Homo sapiens: one gene and its partners. The protein of the gene in region 1 purifies or fractionates together with the protein of each later gene. This does not show direct contact. Each region holds a gene or a part of one and is shown in the gene's direction. Other genes may lie near its edges. The genes, in order: DOCK5, RAB3GAP1, C5orf34, DDX11, ELMO2, KIAA0232 and MADD.

Region 1 (3,500 bases):
CCTATCTTCAGCATTATCTCTCGAGGCTTCTTTCACTAGCTCTCCAATGCAGACCAACTGCCCTTCCCACTGTTGTGCAACATACCCTGCAGAGTCCCTCCTTTGGGACTTTGCTCCCATTGTGCCTGTCCCTGCCAGGAGTGCCCTCCCAACTCTGCCTCAGACAGCTCACCTTTCCTTGAGGGCTCAAATCCATTCCTACTCCCTTCTTCAAATTTGCTATTTGTCAGACTGTCCCAAACCTCCTTGCTTCTTCCTCGCAGTTCCTGGACTGTGCCATCCTTGGGTTCAGTGAATCAGACCATTGTGGTTTTGTATTCCTAGCACTCAACAGGTGTACCAGGTATTAGTGCATTCAGTTTGCTTGTCCTTGATGTTGGGGTGCCGTTCTAAAGTACACTAACCTAGCTTGTCTGGTAATTGAATGCAGTTTTTTCCTCTTCTTTTTCTTCCCATTAGGCATAACATCTCATTCACCCCAATATGAGTTGAATTTTGTTTGGTTAGATGGAGGAAGGGAGAGCCTCCACTCTGTCTTTATCTCTGCAAGTAAGAGAATGAGATATTCTGCTGAGAAAACAAGGAAGCATGGAGCAGACAGACTTTCTTAAATATAGTTGGGAAAATTGGCTTTCTGGACTTCTCTAAGTGTGTACTGGTCAGATTTGGTTTCTGGATGAAGGAACCGTAGGATAGTCATGTTGAAGCATTTGGATGACTCAGAGCTAGCTATGACTTTGCCTGTTGTGCTCTAAGAGGAGTGTGCCTCTGCAGAGCTAGTCTGTGTGAGGATAGAGCTTTGGACTCAGTATGAATTGTGCCTGCTGAAGCTGGCAGTCGCTACTGTCATATTTTATCTTGGTGCCACTCTTGGCTGTTCCTGACATATCCTAGATGTTTCTACAGGGACTGAAATGCAGCCTGTCTGGGCTTTCTTAGTTCTTAAACAGCAGTGTTGGCTCAGGCTCTAGCATTAAGTGGATCTCAATGGTTTCTGTGTGTTATCAAGTGAAGTGACTGATCTATTTGATTCTTTAAACTTATGGTGCTCTAGTACCCCAGTGTTAAGTGCTCAGTGGCTAAGTGTTCTTCCCTGGAGACGTGGAAAATGTGCTTTTTTCTCATCTTTTTTCTTTCTTTGTTTCTCTTTTCTCTCTCTTTTTTCTGTTTGAGCATATGAAGATATAAAACACTTTTAAGCAAACATTAGTGATAAATATCCAGAATAGTCTGATTATAAAAACATTTATTTTTAAGTTTGCTTCCACACAAGCCATTATGTAAAGAATAGCCCCAGATTAGGTTGACTATGGATTCTTTGCAAAGCTTTTTTTTCTTTTCTTTTCTTTCTTTCTTTCTTTTTTTTTTTTTTTTTTTTGAGACAGGGCCTCACTCCACAGCCCAGACTAGAGTACAGTATGATCATAGCTCACTGCAACCTGCCATCTCAGCCTTCCAAGTTGCTGGAACTGCAGGTGTGCACCACCATGCCTGGCTTAAGTTTTTTGATTTTTTAAGTTTTAAAATATTAAACTTTTAAAATAATCATTTTAAAGATGGAGTCTTTCTATATTGTCCAGGCTGATCTGGAACTCTTGGCCTCGTGTGCTCCTTCAGCCTTAAGCCTCCCATGTTGCTAGGATTACAGGGGTGAGCCATGAGCCTGGCTGATTTTTTTTTCTTTTCTTCTGAGACAGGGTCTCGTTCTGTAACCCAGGATAGAGTGCAGTGGCAAAATCATGGCTCACTGCTGCCTCAACTTCCTGGGCTCAAGTGACCCTCCAGCCTCAGCCCGCTGAGAGCTGAGAGCTACAGGTGCGTGCCACCACAACCAGTTGATTTTTGTATTTTTTGTAGGGATGGAGTTTCACCATGTTGCCCAGGCTGGTCTGGAACTCCTAGGCTCAAGCAGTCCTTCTGCCTCAGCCTCCCAAAGTGCTGGGATTACAGGCATGAGCCACCACACCCAGCCTTATTCTTTGAAAAGTAGCTCATTGTTGCATGTTGGGATTTGTGATCACATATATTTTTATGATGTAACAAAAGGCAGTTTTGGGAAATATTACTAGTTAGCTCTTCAGGTGTTTACTTGTTTAAAGCTCTTTAGTTGTTTAGAAGCATCTGACTTAACGGAGTAGAGCTTTGAATGCTGATTTAAGACTGACTTCAGACTTGGGCTTTTGTTGTGTTTTTGTTTGCTTATTTGTTTGTATTTTGAGATGGAGTCTTGCTCTGTCGCCCAGGCTGGAGTGCAGTGGTGCAATCTTGGCTCACTGCAACCTCTGCCTCCTGGGTTCAAGCGATTCTCCTGCCTCAGCCTCCTGAGTAGCTGAGATTACAGGCGCACGCCACCACGCCCGGCCAGTTTTTGTATTTTTAGTAGAGACGGGGTTTCACCATGTTGGTCAGGCTGGTCTGGAACTCCTGACTTCATGTGATGTGCCCGCCTTGGCCTCCCAAAGTGCTGGGATTACAGGCGTGAGCCACCGCTCCTGGCCCAGAATGTTTTTAAATGCATAAAGTACGATACAAAGTTCCAAGTCACTGTAGAAATAAAAATTAAGTAAATTACAAAGGATAGAAAATGAAAACAGCCGTATTGAAATAGGCCGTGAAGGTGTTTTTCAAAGTTCGTGATACTGCAGTATATGTACTTCTTTATTAATGCATAAAGTACCAAGATCTAGTGACAGGTCTAATAACTAGCATAATTTTGAATTAGTCACGAGCATATATGATTTTTCAAGATATCTGCAGTAACCATACTATGATATAAAAATCCCTGTTTTATTGGTGACAGTATCACAGGCGCTAGTAGTGCAATTGCGGTTTATTGGCTACAGTCGTAATTAAAGTGAGTGCTGAATGTCAGAAAATAGAGATGTAACTTTTTTCTTGTTCAAGTTCGTGGATCCTCTGGATTTAACAGATTAAGTATCCTTGGCTGAGGATCACATAGCTAATTAGTTACAGTGCCATCTGAGCAAGACAGTGATACTTGTTGACCACCTCTTTGCACATAACACTGTACCGGATATTATATAATTATAATGACCCGAAGAAGGCCTGGCCTTAACTTGGTCATGGGTTTTTTTTTTTTTTTTTTTTTTTTTGAGACGGAGTCTTGCTCTGTCGCCCAGGGTGGAGTGCAGTGGCGCGATCTCGGCTCACTGCAAGCTCCGCCTCCCGGGTTCACGCCATTCTCCTGCCTCAGCCTCCCGCATAGCTGTGACTACAGGCGCCCGCCACTGCGCCAGGCTAATTTTTTGTATTTTTTAGTAGAGACAGGGTTTCACCGTGTTAGCCAGGATGGTCTTGATCTCCTGAACTTGGTCATGTTTTAACAGCATTGAGGCTAAGAACAAAAGGAAGAGAGAATTAGTATTCATTGAGAACTTCTCTTGTGAGGTACCATTCTGAACCCTTTATTTTAGTATGTTCCAGGGACATGTGGGGTCTTGGAGACACGTTCAGAATGGGGGGGGTCCATGAAATTAAAA
Region 2 (3,500 bases), on another chromosome or scaffold:
TAGTTGAGATTAAAGAGCTATGATAACTAAAGGCAATGGATGATCCTTACCAAGACTTGTAGTGGTTGAGGGAAAGGGTCATAAAAGACACATTTTGCGGCCGGGCGCGGTGGCTCATGCCTGTAATCTCAGCACTTTGGGAGGTTGAGGTAGGTGGATAATTTGAGGTCAGGAGTTCGAGACCAGCCTGGCCAACATAGTGAAACTCCGTCTTTACTAAAAATACAAAAATTGGCCGGGCAGTAGTGGCCATGTGCCTGTAGTCTTAGCTACTCAGGAGGCTGAGGCAGGAGAATCGCTTGAGCCTGGGAGGCGGAGGTTGTGGGGAGCCAAGATCGCACCACTGCACTCCAGTCTGGGCCAACAGAGAAAGACCCTGTCTCAAAAAAAAAAAAAAAAAAAAAAAAAAGACACATATGGGATCAGTTGACAAAACTGCAATAAAGATAGTAGGTTAGATTACAATTATTTTTATCAGTGTTAAATTTATTGTATATAATCAGAATCATTTGCATTTTGATTATATAATAAAATATTTTTAATTTTAGGAAATACAGATATTTTGGGATAAGGGACATGAGTGTGCGACTTATTCTGAAATTATTCGAAACAAGTTTATGTCTATAGTATGTACACACATGAAAGCAGAGAAAGATGCAAGGGATCCAGAACAGAGGAGGGAGACAGGTCATACGTGAATCCAGGTAAAGGGGAATCACATATTTCACGTTATTCCTGCAAATTTGTTTTTCTGTGAATCAGGGGAAAACAAAATTCAGAAAGGTGGGTATTAGCAAGGATGTACAACAGAGGGAACTCATTACTCTAGATAAGAATGTAAATCTGTTGAAACACTTTGTAGGATAATTATGTTGTACATTTCCTAGTTCAATTGTTAGGTATATATCCTAAAGTAATTGCTGTACATGTCCCATTTGCACCAGGAAATATGTGCAATAATGTAATAGGAGCATCATTTGTAATAGCCAAAAACTGAGGAGCTATCCACTACTATTAGTGTAGGAACATTTTAATACAGCAGTGAAAATGAGTAAACTATAGCATATTGGAATGGTATACGAATATCAAAATACTGAATGAAAAAAAGCAAGTCACTGAGGGCTATAAACAGAAACACTCCATTAATATAAAGGTTAAAACTAGACAAAAGTAAACAATATATTATTTAAGGCTACATATGTGAAAAAAACCATAAAGAAAAGCAAAAGAATGATTTGTAGTTAATTCTGGGGATGGAGGGTACACAGGAGGACTTGGAAAAGCCTGGTAACATTCTGTTTCCTAAGCTGGTGTTTTCTTTAAACTATTTCTAATACTCTAGTATGTATATTTCTTAATTTAAAAAAAGTTTCAAATCAGACAAAACTCTCTAAGCCAAAAAAAAGTCCACCACAAGTCATTAAATAAAGCAAATAATAAAACAGTATGTAAGTTATTAATTTTTGTTAAGAAATTACATATGCATCTACATTTTTGTGTTTAAATGGACATACAAGTAGTTTGAGAGGATAAACACGAAAATGTGGTTTTGGGGAAGTAGGATTTCAGGAAAATTTCTGCATCACCTGTATTTTTTTTAAAATTTTGAAATCCATGAGCATTTATCAGTCAGACTCACATTATGAGATTATACTTCTTAAAATTTTTATTGATGTAAAAGAATTGTACATATTTATAGGGTTATACTTCTTTTATCTTTACTGTTGAATAAGGAGCCTAAAGGTAGGGTCCATGTTTTGTACATACTTCTCTGTATTCTTATAATAAGAATTGGAAAAAAAATAAACCAAAACAACTAAAACCAAAAAATGTGTGGGAAGTCACTAACAATGTTTAGAAATATTAAGTGAGAAAAGCAGGTTAAAAGGCAGTATTTTACATATTTAATATTAGTGCCCTTAGTACGTGTATTCTGCGTCTTAAAATGAAAATGCTCCACTGTCAATGGTTGTTTTCTCTTGGTATTGTAATCAGTCGGTAGTTTTTATTTTCTTTGTATTTTCCTTATTTGTGTGTATTACATAAGAAAGCAGAAAAAAATAGAATATTTATAATTATTAAAGATTGAAGTTCTTAGGTGCTTTCAGTAACATTATCCTCACCTTTGGGGTCGTGGCTGCCTATCTGGAGTGCTGTCTTGTTAAGGATTAAGATGAGTGGCTGAGGATTTGCACTTCTGTAAGTGGCTGCTTCATCCTTTGACACCTGCGCTGATCATTTGTGTGCGCTGCACCTCCTTCAGGTGCTGCACTATCTGGCAATCCAGAAACCTGCAGACCTTGCTCGGCACCTGTTACCTTGTGTGATTCATGCAGCTGTACTCAAGGTAAAGGAAGAAGGTAAATGTCATATTTAACTAGTCATTAGTCATTTCCAAAGTGAAAGTATATTTTGCTTAATTTATTTAATGCTGGCTTCAATCTTTTCTAAAATAGAAAGTCTCGAAAACATTTCTTCAGTTAAGAAGATCATAAAGCAGATAATATCCCATTCCAGTAAAGTTTTGCACTTCCCCAATCCAGAAGACAAGAAATTGGAAGTAAGTTTGATGTAGTGTCAGAATCTTGCCAAGTGTTCTCCTCAGTTGGCAAAAATAATTTTTAAGATGCGTTTTCAAAGGGCTTTGCTTTTTTGCCATCTCGCAATGTATGCCTCTTCCTTTTCTACCGCCAGGAAATCATTCACCAGATTACTAATGTGGAAGCTCTCATTGCCAGAGCTCGGTCACTAAAAGCCAAGTTTGGAACTGAGAAATGTGAACAGGAGGAGGAAAAGGAAGATCTTGAAAGGTAATTGCTATTTGGCTAATTCAGTTTTGTCTGCAGTAGGAAAAGCCACCACTCTCTTAAGAAAAATTGTAATAGGATATTAAGACTCTTTTGTGGTAATCATATATTATTTGAAACAAGCATTGTCTAGAGACAGAAATAATTATCATAGCATTTGACCTCTCCCGTATTTCTGAGTCTCTACCAGGTGTTTCCATTCTTCCCACTTTTAGAAACAGTCTCCCAGAGCCTCCTTTTCTAGGGATTCCTTGGTTTGCTCTTGGAGATGTGGTGTCTGGAATTTCTTGTGGAGGAGCTGTTAACTGTGTTGCTCACCCTGCCCCAAAACTTTGTTTTCAGCTGTTACTATTCCTTGACCACAGGGTGCAGGTGCTGAAACCATTTCTGCTTACTGTTCCTAGTTGTTTATTTTAAACAAGATTTGTGATAGCAAAGGTGCACATCCTATGTGCCTTGCGATTATGTTTTGAAAGATTGACCAGATGGCTTTTCTCAGATGAAGCAAATGATTGGGGCATTCTCTTTATGAGACTCGGCACCATTACCAATGGAGCTTAGATCAGTGTGAGGCCCTGTTCATTTTTTGCCCATGTTATTTGGAAGGACAATATTGTTTTAATGTGTGATAAAGTGTTCACAAATTAGCTTGTTCAGTGGCTTAAATTTGTCATCATTTAAAAATTTTCATTA
Region 3 (3,500 bases), on another chromosome or scaffold:
CTAGATTTTCGAAACTCTTCAGCTACTTGCCCTTTTTTATCTGAAACCATCATACCTTCTGAAAGAAAAAAGGTGATTTTTTTAACTTCATTTTTGTTAGTATTATTTGAGGACAAGTAACTAGAAACAGGTAATTTAATATTTAGCCTTTTTTTCCTTTTCAGGACACCTGGGGATACATTGCTATAAAACATCAAAGTTACATAGTGTATCCCCCTTGCCATTTTCTTTGTATCCAAGCATTATAATCAGAATTTTTAGATTGGTGACTTTTTCATTCTCAGAGGTCTCAAAATTAAGTAATTATGTGACCATTTTCAGTAACAGCGTATTTGTTAATGTATAGTAGAAATATGTAACTATGGGTATGACCTTTATTATTTTGCTTATATAGTATTGTGTTTGGACTTTTAGGAATAATAACTGTCATTTACTGAGGGTTTACTATGTCCAACAACTATGAACAATATTAGAAATATTTAATAACACCATACTGATCAAAATGGATGTCCATCCAATCAAAACAGGTATATTGGCTAGATGGCAGCCTCTTTTTTTTTTTTTTTTTTCTGAGACGGAGTCTCACACTGTCGCCAGGGCTGGAGTGCAGTGGCACGATCTCGGCTCACTGCAACCTCCACCTCCCAGGTTGACGCCATTCTCCTGCCTCAGCCTCCCGAGTAGCTGGGGCTACAGGCACCCGCCACCACACCCGGCTAATTTCTTGCATTTTTAGTAGAGACGGGGTTTCATCATGTTAGCCAGCATGGTCTCGATCTCCTGACCTCGTGATCCGCCCGCCTCAGCCTCCCAAAGTGCTGGGATTACAGGCGTGAGCCACCGCGCCCGGCCGGCAGCCTCTTTTTATAGGCAAGGAAATTATGTCTTAGAGAGTTTACCTAATTTGTCTATGGCAGTTTTCTCAGTGGCAAAGTCAGGATTTGAACCTAGTCTATCTGACTCTGTAAACTCTGTTTCTCAACTACTTTCTGCTACCTTTCTATGCTGTCAAGATGCTTGCCTGCCGGCTGAGTAATTTTATATTGTCTCGTGGCAAAGGAGCCATAAAAAATTATAAGTTGTAACTTAGCCTAGAATGGTAATTTTCCATTGTGTCTTTTGAGTCACTTTATTCACTGAAACTGCCTAGCTTGTTGCTGATGCTGCAGCAGGATTATTAGATAGTCTAATTCTAAAAGAGGAGTTTGATGACCATCCTTACAAACCAGCTTTGCTGTCAGTAAATACAGCCCTCAATTTTAGTGTCCTAACATCGTACATATAGATAGCATGGTAAATTTAGGAAGCTTTCTTGACAATAGTTTGTGTAAACGTAAGATTTTACATAAATGGAATTGAAATGCTAAATGCTTGGCAAAATTAATTCAGTAAAAACCTCTCACGCAATATCTACTGTTTATATCTTATATGAAAAGTCACAATCAACACTGTTACTTGTTATGAGTCTTTTATTAGTCAGAATCAATTTTTCTTTGAGTAATTAAACTTTTTTAAAGTTTCCTCTAAGCCTCCTGAAATTTATTTTAGTGTATGGTGTGCCAGGTACTACCTAGGATGGGTACTTTTTACATGTTACCTTATTTGGTTCATGTGATAACCCTGCAAGACAGAATTTCCCAAATGCTGTTCAGTAATTCTAGTACTAGTTTAAATAATTTTCTCTTTTCCCTCTTGCTCTGAAAAACTTATGTTATCTCATGTAAATTTTAAGATATGATTGAGTTTGTTTTTGAATTTTCTGAGTTGTTCTGTCAATAATTTTTATGGTAGTCCTGTACCATTTAAGCTATGGTTGCTTTTTTTTTTATTTAAAACTTAAAGAAAAATTTTTAGCTATGATTGCTTTTAATATAATGTATCATAGTGTTGGTCTTCCCTTATTTCTAGTTTTTTTTCAGAGTAAACTTTTGCAGGGTGAGGGGAGGGATACAAATCTGTTTAATTCATTGTACATTTAAAACCAAAATACATTTAACACTAAATATGACCATTTCTCTCATTTTGTGTCTGTTTTACATCTCTTTTTTTTAAGGGTGATAATCTTAACAATATCAAACATTCTCTGGAAAATCATATATAGGCTGAGATCTGGCCCTCCATTTTTTCATTCTCTGTAGATAGTAAAACACAAATATTTAAGAGCTTTCTTACACAATACTTAAATATCAAATATATGGAAAAATTGGACTGTTAACAGAAAATACTCACCGTCTCTTTTCCCCTCTCCTTGCAGCATATCTTCATTGACATAACAGAAGTGAGATGGCCCAGTCTTGATACAGATGGTACCATGATATATATGGAGAGTGGCATTGTGAAGATAACATCTTTAGATGGTCATGCATACCTCTGCCTGCCCAGATCTCAGCATGAATTTACAGTACATTTTTTGTGTAAAGTTAGCCAGAAGTCAGACTCATCTGCAGTGTTGTCAGAAACAAATAATAAAGCCCCAAAAGATAAACTAGTTGAAAAAACTGGCAAAATCTGTATACGTGGAAATTTACCAGGACAGAGACTGAAGAATAAAGAAAATGAGTTTCATTGCCAGATCATGAAATCCAAAGAAACTTTAAAGAAGATGAGTTGTGTAAATGGAACTGAAGGGAGGGAAGAGCTGCCTTCGCCTGGTACAAAGCACACATGTGTATACACATGGGTCAAGCAGTGCTGGTCTGTGGCTGCCTGTCCAGAGGAATGGAAATATCCTTTGTCTTTAGCACTTCATTTTCATAATAAAATCAGCAATATGTCTAAAATTGATGCACATATAACTCAGAGTAGATTTTTAACTTCTGATATTTCAGAGGAAAGAGGAAAAGTGGTTTCTGTTCTTCCCAGGGCCCTGTCACTCAGCTGTCCAGTCCCACACCTACACAGGTAATGCAGTAATGGCTATTGGTCATGAAGCTTTTTATCAGAACCAGTCTTAACCTGGATAATTTTCTTTTTATCTGATACCATTCACAAGGAAAGTTTATCTCATCCAAAATTTTGCTTTTAACTGATAGTAAATAATTTCCCTAGCAAATGTGTTGCTTATGTTTTTTACTCTGTGTCCATGCATTGAATGTAGAAGGCTGACTCTACACTAGATACTGTGCTAAGTCCAGTAACTGCAGAGATGACTAAGACACAGTCCCTGCTTTATAGCAACTTAGAATCTAGTGAAGGTCACTGTACCTAAAAAGATTATTAAAGTATGCTAAATGATGGGACAGGAGTCTGCACAGGGCTCTGTGGGCCCAGGGGAGCACCTGCTGCCGCTCACTGGAGCCCGTGACCTTGCTTGCTGGAGTGTGGATCTGACACAGTTCTTTTGTCCATACCTAGCTTCAGAGGCTACCCGTGTCTTTGGTTCACTGACTATAAATACGTCTGTTTTCAAAAGGGGTACACACGGAGTGGCTTCTGTAAGGCTAAGTATAAAACTTTTAACTCCACTAAGGATTGTAGATTTGTAACATCAACTTTGCATA
Region 4 (3,500 bases), on another chromosome or scaffold:
GCCTCCTCAATCTGCCGGTTGCCTCCAGGGCTCTCCTAGCTCAGCTTCCACTTAGAGCCCACTTCCTGTCTTCTGCAAGGAGCAGGAGCAGGGATTGCAACCTGAGAATCTAATTGTTCTTAAAAAGAATTTCAACCCGTCCCTTTGTTTTCAGTGGCCTGCTGTGTTCCTACCACTTCCTGAGTCTTTCTGAGAATGAGTGGGGGAGATCTCTGGGGACACTTGGGCTTGAGTGTCTCTGCCGAAATCACTTCCATGTCTCTGCCTTCTTTCCCTCTCTCCTAAAACATATTACTCCTTCCACTTTCTTTTTGTGGGTGTAAGCCTCCATATTACTTTGGTTAATTTTAGTGTGCTTTGGAACACAGATGAGTGCATGTTCATTCTGCCTTGTTTAATTTTAGAGACAGGGTGTTGCTCTGTTGCCCAGGGCCGAGTGCAGTGTTAAGATCATGGTTTACTGCAGCCTCAACCTTCTGGCAACAAGTGATCTTCCCACGTCAGCCTCCTGAGCAGCTGGGACTACAGGTGTGCACCATCACACCTAGCTAATTTTTTAATTTGTAGAAATGAGATCTCACTATGCTGCTCAGGCCGGTGGTCTTAAACCCCTAGGCTCAAGCAATCCTCCCTCCTTGGCCTCCCATAGTGCTGAGATTACAGGCATGAGCCACTGTACCTGACCCCTTTCACCTTGTTTAGCCTGACAACCCATCTTCTCCCTCTCAGGTCTTTCCATCTCAGTCTTCTGCACTCCAGGCTTCTGCGTCTTCTTCCTCTGCTCAGCCTTTAATTGTCGATGTTTCTGGTTCTATAGCTTCATCTTCTTGTGTGCAGTCTCTGTGAATGTACCCTGTGGCTTTATTACCTTTGACATTCTTCTGTCTTCTAAATCATCTCCTGAATAGAGTGTTTTCTCCTGTCCTGGGTGTCCCGCAGCCCATAGAAGCAGCCATGCTGTGGGACACCCTGAGTGGGGTTTGTGTTACCTGTTGTGCCTACCATGCCCTTCCCCGCCGTGGATGCACAGGTGCCCCACCTTAGCTGCCCCAGATGCTGTTTATCCTTGATAGTCACCTTTTAAGCCTTATACAGGTCTATCAAGTTGAGTCACCATTACCACTTGGTGTGTGCTGTGCCTTGTGTAATACTGCAGTTCCGGGAGTCATCCAACCTGGAATGCATGCTTTGCGGGGATCTATGATGCCCTCGAATTGTATGTTACATGTGAACCTGTGAGCATTTTCTAGGGGCTCTGCACCTTTGTGTCCTCAGCTCTGAGCCCCATGCTTGCTGCAACCAGCAGGTGTTCAGAGTGAATGAATTTGCTTATCTTGGCATAAATCATGTAACTGTTGATGATACCCCAGGAAGGTGAGCCTTTGGTTATAAATCCTTTTAACATTTTCCAGTCTAAAAGTTTTGTGGTCTTATTACACGATGTAGAAAACAGTGGGCCTCAGTTATTCTTTTGCTGTTGTGCCGGAGTATACCACGGTTGTTTTTGAAAGATAACTTTGACCATACCCTTAGGAACTTCCTCAGCTCACTTTCAAATGGAGGGCACTGGCTTTCTAACCATTGTGTCTCCCAGCCCAGTGACAGCTGAAGCTGACTGCTTCCGATATCACAGACAGCACAGAAGAGCCGCCCTCCAGGTGCTGCTGGGAAATGCTGCCTGGAACTCTTTGCCATTTACTTTCTATCAAAAGCTGAGGGAAATGGTACATATGGGGCTTTCCTAAAAATATGGGATCCATCCATTTGTCAACAATGTCATTCTATCCTATCCCAGGGCCTTTCAAGATTTTGATGAAAACTAATAGATCCCATATTCCAGAATAATGCTATTAATAATTTTATTATTATTACTTAATGATAGCAAAAAGTTAGCTAACTCCAACCGCTCACTTGTTATTTGCCAGGTAATCCTCTAATCCAGAGGATTTGGCCTTTTGTGTGTGTTAATGTCCTGCTTGCACCAGCTCTATGAGGAAGGTGCCGCTGTTGTCATTTCCATTTCTGCACTCGTGGAAACAAGCGTAGTGAGGCCAGCCTGAGCCACAGAGCTGCAGGTGGGGGAGACAGCTGGAACCCTGGCACCTGGCTGTGGAGTTTGAGACTCTGACTCCTGCGCCGCGCTGCTGCCCCAACCGTAGTCATACGAGGTGTTTCACCCCGCCCTGGATACTCTGAGATCCCCTCTGGGTTCAGCAGGCTCAGAGAGCTGACTGCCTGGAGCAGAAGGCATGGGGTCCTCCAGAGACTCCCCTGAGCTGAGTTCCCCTGTGGACACCAGGGCCGCCTCCTTGTGGCGCTCCCTGAAGGGTCCTCTCTGGAAGAACTGTATTGGTTCCCTGGGGCTGCTAGAGGAAAGCTTCACAAACTGGGGCTTAAACAACAGAAACTGACATCCCACAGCGCTGGAGGCTGGAGTCCGAGATCAAGGTGTCAGCATGCTTGGTCCCTTCTGAGGGTCGTGAGGGAAAGATCTCTTCAGGCCCCTTTCCTTGGCTTATAGGTGGCGTGTTCTCCTTGGGTATCATCACATCGCCTGCCTTCTGTGCATGTCTGCATCCACGTGTCCCCTTTCCAATAAGGATATTAGCCCTTTAGGCTGGGTCCCGTCCTAGTAGTCTCATCTTAACTAATTACATTTGCGACAGTCCTATTTCCAGATCAGGCCACATTCTGAGATGCTGGGGGTTAGGATTTCAACACAGGAATTTGGAGGAATACAACTCAATCAGGCTTATGGAAAATTCTGGTCTTAAGTCAAGGGTAGTGTTCTCCAGTCTGTATATGGAGGCGCACACCTATGGTCCCAGCCACTTGGGAGGCTGAGGCCAGAGAACTGTGTGAGCCCAGGAGTTCCATACCAGCCTGGGCAACATAGCAAGACCTCCTCTCAAAAACAGACAGAGTGGTGTCTTCCAGAGTGATTAGTTTGCTTAAAAAAAAAAAAACAAAACAAAACACAAACCGTAAGCACTGGCGCTCATGACTGATCATCCTGTATCCACGCACGAGCTGCACGAAGGCCGCGCGGTCACTCTGGCTCCCTGTTGGCGAGTACCTGGGATTTCTTGCTCAGCATTTTGGGGCCTTAATTCTTTTAGGGGACTTTTTGTCTAATGTCTCCCCTTCTTCTAATTATGTGCGATATTTACATAGAATCTGATAAACTGCTTCAAATTTGTTTTCAGAACAGTGAGCTGGATAATTAAAGAAGCTTTTTCCTGCTTCTTGGGCCCAGTTTCCATTTCTTTCTTTTTTCTGTTTTTCCTGGCTATTCTAGTGCTAATTTCCTTCCTTTCCTTTCCTAGGCTGGTCTTAGAGCATCCTCTCCTATGTACAGCCAGACCTTCTTTCAAGCTTTTATTAAAATGGGGAAAGGTCATTTGGGAGGCTTTGTTGTTTTCCTGTTTCTAAAGATCATTTTTCTTCCTGCAGGGGAAGTCCTTAAGTCTTATTTGTGGGGCCCTCTCTTGGCTCCGTGA
Region 5 (3,500 bases), on another chromosome or scaffold:
CCCAGGCTAGAGTTCAGTGACATGATCATAGTTCACTGCAGCCTCGAACTCCTGGGCTCAAGCAACTCTCCTGCCTCAGCCTCCTGAGTAGCTAGGGACTACAGGCACACGCCACCATGCCCAGCTAATTTTTATTTTTTGTAGAGAAATGTCTCGAACTCCTGGCCTGAAGTGATCCTCCTGCCTTGACCTCCCAAAGCATTGGGATTACAGGTGTGAGCCACTGCGCCCAGCCAAAACAAACTGTTAAACAATGGAAATACTGTGTAGTTAGAGGGTATTGGGACGCAGAGGGAACACCAGACAGCCTGCACAGTTCATGCCTGTCCCTGTCTGTTTGGAGCCAGCCTGGTTCACAGGAGTGGAAGAAATCAGAGCCATTGGGTTTAAGCAGACACAGGTGCTTACTGAGCCTTCACTGGACACCAAGTGCTGTGCTAGGTTATGAGACTGCAGAGTTATACCTGTTCTGGAGGAGGAGCTAGTGGAGATGTGTAAATATGTAACTGTAATAGAGTATGACAAAATCGTACTCATTAACGGAAGTATGAACAGGATGCTGTGAGAACACAGAGGCCCCTGTCCTATTTACTTTTGCCAGGGAAAGTAGAGAAAGCTAAGACTAGTACAAGGAGGAGGTAACATCCGAACTAGGCTCTGATGCTTGAATAGGAGCTCTTCTGACAGTCAGTAGGAGGAAGAGAATGTGCAAAGGTACAGAAGAATTGAAAGAACATGGCCTGCCTTATAGAAATAGCCCGTAGTCCAGGATGGCTAGATTGTAAAGGACCAAATAGCACACGAGGGAGTGTGGCCCACCTGTAGACAGTGGAGAGCTGTCTTCTGTTACAATGGTGAGTTCTTGCTGTGAAGGTTTCTTAGCCTCAGTGTGCTTTGGTTTCAGATACACAAACCAGAAATCTCCACAAAGCACCTGCTGCGGGTCAGGTGCAGAGCCACCTGCTTTCTCATGGCTTTCCAGCAACACCAGACAACCTGGTATCAAATTCTGGCTGTGCCACTTGCTAGCTATGTGACACTGAGCCTTCTACTTAACTCCTCTGTGCCTCCATTTTCTTATCTCTAAGGTGGGGATAATAACATACCACACAGCATTGCTGTGTGGATTAAATGAATTAATATATGTAAAGCCCTTAAAATAGTGCCTTAGCATTATGTAATTGCTAGCTAATGTCATCATCTAAGGAAGTATTATATAGAGCGATGAGAACTCGCTTTGGAGTCCTAAGACCTAGGCTTGAGACCCAGTTCTGATGTGTTGGGTTGATTTAGTTTTATTTCTTTTCCCTCCCTTCATTTTTTTTCTTTCCTTCCTTCTTTTAGGAGGGAGGTGTAGAAAGAGGTACATGGAGAACAAGTTTGTCAATCCGTCTGAACTTCAGTTGCCTTACCTGTAAGGTAGGAATGTTTTTCAGAGTTCTTATGAGCATCAACTATAATAATGATATAGAAGTGAGCAATCAACTATAAAGAGGCTACCTGGGCTGGGCACAGTGGCTCACGCCTGTAATCCCAGCACTTTGAGAGGCCGAGGCAGATGGATCACCTGAGGTCAGGAGTTCAAGACCAGCCTGGCCAACATGGTGAAACCCCGTCTCTACTAAAAATACAAAAATTAGCTGGGCGTGGTGGTGAGTATCTGTAATTCCAGCTACTCAGGAAGCTGAGGCAGGAGAATCGCTTGAACCCAGGAGACAGAGGTTGAAGTGAGCTGAAATCATGCCATTGCACTTCAGCCTAGGCGACAAGAGCAAGACTCCATCTTTTAAAAAAAATTTAAAAAAATAAAAATAAAGAGGCTACCTGTACGTTACTACTAGATATATGATTACTATGAAGTTACCATATAACCGATCTGTTTCAAACAAATCAGACTTATCTAGTGGGTAAGAGCAAACCCATGGGTTTTGCTCTCATTAATTCAGCCATTGTTAATTAAGTGCTTACCCAGTACCATCATCATATGCTAGTGATGCTGCTGTCTGCTCAGACCTCCGTTTTAGAGTTCCTGCAGAGCTTGGGGGCAGCTGTGGTCTTAGGCGTATTAGTTGCAATGAGTAGAAACATAGACTAGCTTAATTTATAGGAGTTTTATTGGCAGGATACAGTGGACTTTCAGGTACCCCGAGCATAGGAAGTAATAGCCACATAATCTGGAAAGTTAGCAGGTAATGGCTTTTCCATCTCTTTCTGATTTCTGGCCTCAGTTCATTTAGATATTTATGGATTCCTCCTGCAGAATCACTTCCTCTGAAAGGCTCTTGGTTTTTTATTCTCCATATCTTTGGCTCGTACGGATCTTTGGCTTGCCATGGTATTCGCTCTGAAGCTTACTATGATCTTACTTCTCCAGGGTCATTATCACCCAGTTCCCTTAGTCTGTGTCTTTTATTTGTTTGTATGTATGTATGTGTGTATTTATTTATGATGGAGTCTCATTCCGTCGCCCAGGCTGGAGCGTAATGGTGCAATCTGTGCTCACTGAAACCTCCGCCTCCTGGGTTCAAGCTGTCCTCCCTGCCTCAGTCTCCCGAGTAGTTGGGATTACAGGCGCCCACCATCATGCCTGGCTACTTTTTGTATTTTTACTAGAGACGGGGTTTTGCCATGTTGGCCAGGGTGGTCTCAAACTCCTGACCTCAGGCGATCCACCCACCTTGGCCTCCCAAAGTGCTGCGATTATAGACATGAGCCACCACGCCCAGCCAGTCTCTGTCTTTTAAATTCAAGAGAAAGAACTGGAATAGTTCAGCTAAAGTTGGGTATTCACTTTAGTCCCATCAGCTATGGCAGGGTTGTGGAGAGTGTCATTCAGTTCAGAGAGGCTGCCTGGGCTTTGTGGGAAGGACAGAGTCACTGAGAATGGGGGCTTATTAATATCTTTCAAATAGTTTGGTGGTTGCAAATCTCCATGCTTTAAAATGTATACGAATTTTTGAACAGCCGAGAATCATTCAGGGCTAACTTTAATAAAGAGAGAGTCAATCTAGGATATGTCATATGGGGTCAAGAGAAAATAATAGCTATAACCTAATGAGCTTTAGCTTAATCTCCAAAGACGGCGTTCAGAAAGGAGTTAAAAATCATGGGGTTTGTTTCTTAGCAGCACCATCGAAATTAAGGAAGGGTGTAACTTCATTTGGTAAGGACTTTAAAATGGGCATCCTCACTTGGATTTTTTAAATTCCACTTAAGAATCATGGACTTTTAGACTTAGAAGGCACCTGAGACATGCTTTAGTTCTACACTCACATCTTTCAATAGAAGAAAACTGAGATTTGGTTAAAGGGCCATGTATACATTGTGAAAGACCTAGGATTGGGTCCTGAGGCCTTTGGTTCTAAATCCAGTCACTTGTTTCAGCAGGGACAATTATCCCAGCCCAGTGTTCTTTCTGTTGTACCTTCTGTGCCTGCTTATTTTAAAAATAAGAAGAAGCCAAACTAAACAAATGATCTAAAAAGTCATATCGTATAGTT
Region 6 (3,500 bases), on another chromosome or scaffold:
TAATGAAGAGCGCCTGTTAGATTTTAATAGGGTAAGTGGACTGTCCTCCTCCTCGTCATTAACTTACAAACAGCCACCACCTCCAGTTGTCACTGTAGTCAAAAACCTGGGAGTCATGTGAGTGGACCCCACCTCTCCCAGGAACCAGCCAGGCCTGTGGGTGCAGACTTCCTGTTCTCTGGCCTTTGTTCTGAGTCTGCATTCTCCCCCGCTTCCAAACCCCCTTGACTGTTGACTGCCAGTGCTTCCTGAAGAATCCCCAGCTCTCTCCCCAGTCTTGGCTCTACACTACTGCCCGAGGGCATTGCATTACAAATGCAGAGCTGACCCTGTTGCTCCTTGGGTGGGCACACTTTTCATCTTTTTTTTTTTTGTTTACCTAATAAGTGGGAGACCTAGCCTTGTCCTCTTTGAAAGTGCACCCTGAGGCAGCCTTGCCAGTGTGCTTGTTGCCGCTGTCCCGGCTTCTGCAGAACGATCCCGCCCTTTCCGTGTCCTCCTGCACTCTGTGCACGACTCTTCTTGCTGTAGCCAGAGCATGTACTTGCGTTCCGTTTCTGCATGTCTGCCTCTTCCACAAGCCTGTGGGCACCACGAAGGCGGGAGCGGGGCCTCCGCCTGGTTTAGTCTCGTCTTAGACCTTCCCCGGTTAAGAGGCAGGCAGGCAAATGAACCTAAGGAAAATTCTTTTTATTTGGTGTGAATTGTCAGTGTATTAGGGTTCTCCAGAGGGACAGAACTAATGGAATAGGTATATATATACACAAAGGGGAGTTTATTAAGTATTAACTCACACGATCACAAGGTCCCACAATAGGCCATCTGCAAGCTGAGGAGGAAGGAGAGCCAGTCCCAGTCCCAGTCCCAAAACTGAAGAACTTGGAGTCCGATGTTCGAGGGCAGGAAGCATCCAGCATGGGAGAAGATGTAGGCTGGGAGGCTAGGCCAGTCTAGTCTTTTCACATTTTTCTGCCTGCTTTATATTCTAGCCACGCTGGCAGCTGACTAGATGGTGCCCACCCAGATGAAGGGTGGGTCTGCCTTTCCCAGCCCACTGGATCAAATGTTAATCTCCTTTGGCAACACCCCCACAGACACACCCAGGATCAGTACTTTGCATCCTTTAATCCAATCAAGTTGACACTCAGTATTAACCATAACAAGTCCACCCCTTGTCAATTTGAACCCATACACATCTCCTGAAATTATATGTAATCTTCAAATAAAGACAATAAGGTCATAATTATACCTAACATAATACAGCTATGCTTCATACAACCGGAAAAGCACCAATCCCAAACCCAAGTACTATTACATAGAGTTAACAATACTTAAATGCTGATATGAAGTCAATAAATCTTATGTCAGCCGGGCGCTGTGGCTCACGCTTGTAATCCCATCATTTTGGAAGGCCAAGGTGGGCAGATCACCTGAGGTCAGGAGTTCAAGACCAGCCTGGCCAACATGGCGAAACCCCATCTCTACTAAAAATACAAAAATTAGCCGGGCGTGATGGTGCACCCCTGTAATCCCAGCTACTTGGGAGGCTGAAGCTGGAGAATTGCTTGAACCCAGGAGGTAGAGATTGCAGTGAGCTGAGATCGCACCACTGCACTCCAGCCTGGGTGACAGAGCAAAACTCCATCATTCATTCATACATACATACATACATACATACATACATACATAAATATATACATACATAAATCTTGTGTCACATGATAAAGGACAAAAAATAAAATGAGATTTTCTTAGTACAAGTGTATACATGCACAAACGTGTTTTTAACGAAGGAGGAAATACTCCTCAAGACAATTACAGTCCTGGTTTCTGCACCTGGTCACATGGTCGTAGCTGGTATTGATGACTACCTTCTTCTACTACCCATTCTGTATTCCCTTTGCCTTCAGCAAGCACCTCAGCAGGTTGTGGTTTTTTCCCGGTGGAGTGACCTAAACCTTCATTCCTAAAGAGTCTGAGCCATTTGTATCCTGTCTGGACTGGGCTGTTGTAGTTTCCCGTTAACTTGAATCACACGGCATGTGATCAAGTTGACACTCAGTATTAACCATCTGTCAGTGTCCATTCAAGTCCTGTGAGAACTGTCTGCCCAAGCACCTGTAGCATCATCGTCCACGTCCTGCTGCCCACTGACCTGTCCGGCTCCACACATGAAGGCAGATGTTTGAGGCCCCCACCAGCTCTCTCCTCAGTGACTAGTTCACATCATCCCTCCAGCCTCAAACCCCAAACTGAGACATATTCCCCAGTCCTCTCTCTCATCTTCCACACACAGTCTGCCTGCCAGTCCTGACCGTTCCCCGCTGTCAGCCACTTCGCATCTCCCACTTCTCCTCCTCTCCATCATTACCACTTTGTTCAAGCCACTGTCCCTGCTCCTGAACAGCTGCCATGGTCTTTTCATTGTCCTTCCTGCTTTCGTCATCCTTTCCAGCCTTCTCTCCACACAGCAGACAGAATGACCTCACGAGCAGTATCTTGTTCAGTCCTCACAACGACCCTGTGAGGTAGGTACTGTTGTCATGCCTGTTCTGCAAAATAGGAAAGTGAAGCACAAAAACATCAGGCGCCGTGTATCCGAGGCCAGAGAGCCACAGCTTCAGTGTGGACCTGAACTCTGAACCTCAGCAGTCTGCCTCTAGGACCCATACTGCTAACCATGATGTCACTTTGCTGTTGCATTTGAGACAGATCCAAACTCCCCGCCACGCCTCTACAGCCCTGTATGTTTTGCCCCCGTCTGCCTTTGACCTCATCTGTCTCTGCTCTCCCCTTACTCTGTGTGGCTTTTCTGTGCTTCTGCCTCAGGGGTTCTCAACCAGGGGCAATGCTGCCATTTGGAAATGAGGTGGGAGTGCTGCTAGTTACTATGGCAGGGTGAGGGGAGCTTTGTAATGACTGTGACTGAGGAGGGGCCACCACTGCATCTCATGTCCTGGGGTCCAGAGATGCTGACCATCTGGTGTAGGGGAGACAGTCCGACACCACAGAGTGTTGGCACCTCTGCATGGCTGGCTTCTCAGCTGAGCGGGCCTCTTCTCCAAAGAACTCCCTTCCCAACACACCCATCTGCAGTGCCCCCCCTCACCATCTGTACTGTGTCACTGCAAACTCCCTTCCCAACACACAGGTCTGCAGTGTCCCCTCACCATCTGTACTGTGTCACTGCAAACTCCCTTCCCAACACACCCGTCTGCAGTGCCCCCTCACCATCTGTACTGTGTCACTGCAAACTCCCTTCCCAACACACAGGTCTGTAGTGTCGCCTCACCATCTGTACTGTGTCACTGCAAACTCCCTTCCCAACACAGAGGTCTGCAGTGTCCCCTCACCATCTGTACTGTGTCACTGCAAACTCCCTTCCCAACACACAGGTCTGTAGTGTCGCCTCACCATCTGTACTGTGTCACTGCAAACTCCCTTCCCAACACAGAGGTCTGCAGTGTCCCCTCACCATCTGTACTGTGTCACTGCAAACT
Region 7 (3,500 bases), on another chromosome or scaffold:
GCTCGATGAAGTGGAAACCAAGTTGTAATGTTGGAAGCTGTTTTCTTGTAAACCATATTTTATGTTTTGGAGTGATTCTTACTGGATGGCTCATGACAGGTGGTGCTACAGTCCCGAGACTACAATGCACTCTCCATGTCTGTGATGGCATTCGTGGCAATGATCTACCCACTGGAGTATATGTTTCCTGTCATCCCGCTGCTACCCACCTGCATGGCATCAGCAGAGCAGGTGAGTCTCAAGGCGACTTCCGGCTTTCTCACCTCTGTCTTCCTGAGGGAGGAGGCTTAATGCTCAAAGAAGTTGTAAGTGAGTGCTGGTCCTCAATCCTTTGTCATAACTTATTTGTCTACAAAATCTGACTGATTTGAACTGATCTGGTGGCAAGGCTTATGCTATTTTAGTTTTCATTTATCACAACAAATGTTAATGACTGTAGGCCACTGGCTACACTGCAGCAGGTGTTACGTGTGTTACGTAATACAGTAGTTCCTCCTTATCTGTGGAGGACACATTCCAAGACCCACCAGTGGATGCCTCAAACCACAGATAGTTCCAAACTCTATAGATACTTTGTTTTTTTCTATACATATATACCGGTGATACCGTTTAATTTATGAATTAGACACAGTAAGAGAGTAACAGTTTTCTCTTTGGGCATATATTTGGTGTTTTTTGGAGACAGAGTCTCCCTCTATCCCCCAGGCTGGAGTACAGTGGCACAATCTCGGCCCACTGGAGCCTCTGCCTTCCAGGTTCAAGTGATTCTCCTGCTTCAGCCTCCCTAGTAGCTGGGATTACAGGCACTGCCACCACCACACACCAAATAATTTTTTGTATTTTTAGTAGAGGCGGGGTTTCACCATGTTGGCTGGGCTGGTCTTGAACTCTTGACCTTAGGTGATCCGCCTGCCTCAGCCTCCCAAAGTGCTGGGATTACAGGCATGAGCCACCGTGCCCAGCCTCTTTCTACATATATTTGGCTTCTCTTTGGCATATCCCAATTGCCAGCATCAGTACCCTTGTGCTTTGGGGCCATTATTAAGTAAAATAAGGGTTACTTGAACACAAACGCTGAGATTGTGTGACAGTTGATCTGATAACCGAGATGGCTACAGGCTGGACACAGGGGTGATTCATGTCTGGGTGGGACAGAGCGGGACAGCATGAGATTTCATCATGCTTCTCAGAACTATTGTCCTGCACTTCAGATATGATCAAGCTGCAGTTTAAAATTTATGAATTGTTTATTTCTGGAATTTTCCTTTTAATATTTTCAGACTACAGTTTGCCTCAGTTAACTGGAATCACAGAAAGTGAAACTGTGGATAAGAAAGACTACTGTATACAAAAAAATGTACCATGTTACCTTTCAAAAAATCTGAAAAATTCTGAATTTTCAAATACATCTGGCCTCAAGAGTTTTGGAAGAGGGATTGTATCTGCATTTCCTTATCTAGAAGAATCCAGACTTGATAAGTGCTCATGATAGGTTTTGTCTTTGTTTCTCACCTTCTTTATCATTTCCACAGCTGCTGTTGGCTCCAACCCCGTACATCATTGGGGTTCCTGCCAGCTTCTTCCTCTACAAACTGGACTTCAAAATGCCTGATGATGTATGGCTAGTGGATCTGGACAGCAATAGGGTGAGGTTCTTGGCTGAGGCATTGTAGAGTCTAGAGGAGGATTGCATTCTAGACCCAGTCCTGAGATATCTGTTTCTAGATTCCTTTCAGGAACGTCCTAAGTTGTTGGATAATTTCTATTGCGAGACTTACTGAAACAAGTTTTTTTAAATGCTCCTTTTACCTTATTAGCCAAATAAACCCTTGGTTAGGTCTCAGAGAATTACAGGATTTATTTTTGCCAGAATTAAGTGACCCCCCACCATATCCTCCAAGAGCAGTCAGACAGTTGTGATCTGAGGGCCATTACATGTGGTATAGATCATCTCTTAATGGTTTCCCTGGGGTATAGTTTCCAGTAAGAAACTGTCTTTCAGTGCAGGCTTAATTAATTATATGACCATTCTGCAATGTGAATACATTCAGACTTTGGTGGGAAGCCCTTATGTGTGCTCATTGTAAAACTTAAAAAAAATAAAAATAAGCGTAAATAAAATAAGTGAAAAGAAAAACCATAATCCTTTTATCTAGAGATAATAACCAATAACATTAAGTTATATTTCATTTCAGATGCATATGTATGTCATATATGTGTGTACATATATCTTACTGTGCAGTTATATAATGTATATTCGTTTATATAATAATAATGTATATACGTCCTCTTATTTTTATTTATGTAAGTGAAATTCCTGAGCAATAAACTCTAAGGTCACGTCTTTTATCATTTCTCTGGTGCAGGTGATTGCCCCCACCAATGCAGAAGTGCTGCCTATCCTGCCAGAACCAGAATCACTAGAGCTGAAAAAGCATTTAAAGCAGGTAGGTGAAGAACGAAGGAAAGAAAGGGGAGTATTAGATGCTGTGGGATTCCTATAAGAAGACAGCTATTCTCAGAGCCAATTTCCTATCAAACTTCAAGTGGAGTAGTTTTCTTCACCCTGGATGGGCTTAAGAAAACGCGTATCCCATTTCTGGGTGGCAGAGTGAATTTCTGTTTTTGATTCCAATTCATTGTATGCTTTACCATCTTCTAATGCTTATGATGCTGTATAAAATAGCCCTTCACTCTCTGTTTCTTGTATGTGTGCCACTCTCTATGGCTTCAGAACATTTTCTCAGTCTTTTTTTTTTTTTTTTTTTGAGATGTGGAGTCTTGCTCTGTCCCCTAGGCTGGAGTGCAGTGGCGCGATCTCGGCTCACTGCAAGCTCTGCCTTCTGAGTTCACGCCATTCTTCTGCCTCTCCAGGAGCTGGGACTATAGGCGCACGCCGCCACACCCGGCTAATTTTTTTGTATTTTTGGTAGAGACGGGGTTTTGCCATGTTAGCCAGGATGGCCTCTATCTCCTGACCTCATGATCCGCCTGCCTCAGCCTCCCGAAGTGCTGGGATTACAGGCGTGAGCCACTGCGCCCGGCCGATTTTCTCAGTCTTGTTAGGTGGAAGTTAGTAGTGTGGACCGTCTGGCTGCTTTTATATTATCTTCTAGAGTTGATCCTGAGGGTTCCTTTCTTCAAAAATTCCTTTATTTGGCTGGGCACGGTGCCTCATGCCTGTAATCCCAGCACTTTGGGAGGCCGAGGCAGGTGAATCACGAGGTCAGGAGTTGAAGACCAGCCTGGCCATTATGTTGAAACCCTGTCTCTACTAAAAATACAAAAATTAGCCGGGCATGGTGGTGGACGCCCGTAGTCCAGCTACTCAGGAGGCTGAGGTAGAAGAATCACTTGAACCCAGGAGGCAGAGGTTGCAGTGAGCCAAGATTGCGCCATTGCACTCCTGCCTGGGCCACAGAGTGAGACTCAGTCTCAAACAAACAAAAAAATTCCTTTCTTTGAGTAATTCCTCACATCCATTTTTTATTGATTGATTT

What was found.
Region 2: the proteins of DOCK5 (region 1) and RAB3GAP1 purify together in Homo sapiens (affinity purification with mass spectrometry; 2 studies listed by BioGRID and IntAct, with this or other methods). This does not show direct contact.
Region 3: the proteins of DOCK5 (region 1) and C5orf34 purify together in Homo sapiens (affinity purification with mass spectrometry; 2 studies listed by BioGRID and IntAct, with this or other methods). This does not show direct contact.
Region 4: the proteins of DOCK5 (region 1) and DDX11 purify together in Homo sapiens (affinity purification with mass spectrometry; 2 studies listed by BioGRID and IntAct, with this or other methods). This does not show direct contact.
Region 5: the proteins of DOCK5 (region 1) and ELMO2 purify together in Homo sapiens (affinity purification with mass spectrometry; 3 studies listed by BioGRID and IntAct, with this or other methods). This does not show direct contact.
Region 6: the proteins of DOCK5 (region 1) and KIAA0232 purify together in Homo sapiens (affinity purification with mass spectrometry; 2 studies listed by BioGRID and IntAct, with this or other methods). This does not show direct contact.
Region 7: the proteins of DOCK5 (region 1) and MADD purify together in Homo sapiens (affinity purification with mass spectrometry; 2 studies listed by BioGRID and IntAct, with this or other methods). This does not show direct contact.

What each region holds. Positions count from the first base shown.
Region 1 is NC_000008.11:25,187,689-25,191,188, forward strand, and holds part of DOCK5 (dedicator of cytokinesis protein 5), read left to right. Parts: intron 1-3,500. UniProt on the Homo sapiens protein: Guanine nucleotide exchange factor (GEF) for Rho and Rac. GEF proteins activate small GTPases by exchanging bound GDP for free GTP. Along with DOCK1, mediates CRK/CRKL regulation of epithelial and endothelial cell spreading and migration on type IV collagen.
Region 2 is NC_000002.12:135,160,292-135,163,791, forward strand, and holds part of RAB3GAP1 (rab3 GTPase-activating protein catalytic subunit), read left to right. Parts: intron 1-2,263; coding exon 2,264-2,360; intron 2,361-2,456; coding exon 2,457-2,560; intron 2,561-2,694; coding exon 2,695-2,810; intron 2,811-3,500. UniProt on the Homo sapiens protein: Catalytic subunit of the Rab3 GTPase-activating (Rab3GAP) complex composed of RAB3GAP1 and RAB3GAP2, which has GTPase-activating protein (GAP) activity towards various Rab3 subfamily members (RAB3A, RAB3B, RAB3C and RAB3D), RAB5A and RAB43, and guanine nucleotide exchange factor (GEF) activity towards RAB18.
Region 3 is NC_000005.10:43,505,149-43,508,648, reverse strand, and holds part of C5orf34 (uncharacterized protein C5orf34), read left to right. Parts: coding exon 1-72; intron 73-1,451; exon of another isoform or gene 1,452-2,254; coding exon 2,255-2,901; intron 2,902-3,500.
Region 4 is NC_000012.12:31,080,360-31,083,859, forward strand, and holds part of DDX11 (ATP-dependent DNA helicase DDX11), read left to right. Parts: intron 1-3,453; coding exon 3,454-3,500. UniProt on the Homo sapiens protein: DNA-dependent ATPase and ATP-dependent DNA helicase that participates in various functions in genomic stability, including DNA replication, DNA repair and heterochromatin organization as well as in ribosomal RNA synthesis.
Region 5 is NC_000020.11:46,396,616-46,400,115, reverse strand, and holds part of ELMO2 (engulfment and cell motility protein 2), read left to right. Parts: intron 1-1,344; 5' UTR 1,345-1,419; intron 1,420-2,096; exon of another isoform or gene 2,097-3,500. UniProt on the Homo sapiens protein: Involved in cytoskeletal rearrangements required for phagocytosis of apoptotic cells and cell motility. Acts in association with DOCK1 and CRK. Was initially proposed to be required in complex with DOCK1 to activate Rac Rho small GTPases.
Region 6 is NC_000004.12:6,876,727-6,880,226, forward strand, and holds part of KIAA0232 (uncharacterized protein KIAA0232), read left to right. Parts: coding exon 1-31; intron 32-3,500.
Region 7 is NC_000011.10:47,276,633-47,280,132, forward strand, and holds part of MADD (MAP kinase-activating death domain protein), read left to right. Parts: intron 1-99; coding exon 100-231; intron 232-1,532; coding exon 1,533-1,646; intron 1,647-2,366; coding exon 2,367-2,447; intron 2,448-3,500. UniProt on the Homo sapiens protein: Guanyl-nucleotide exchange factor that regulates small GTPases of the Rab family. Converts GDP-bound inactive form of RAB27A and RAB27B to the GTP-bound active forms.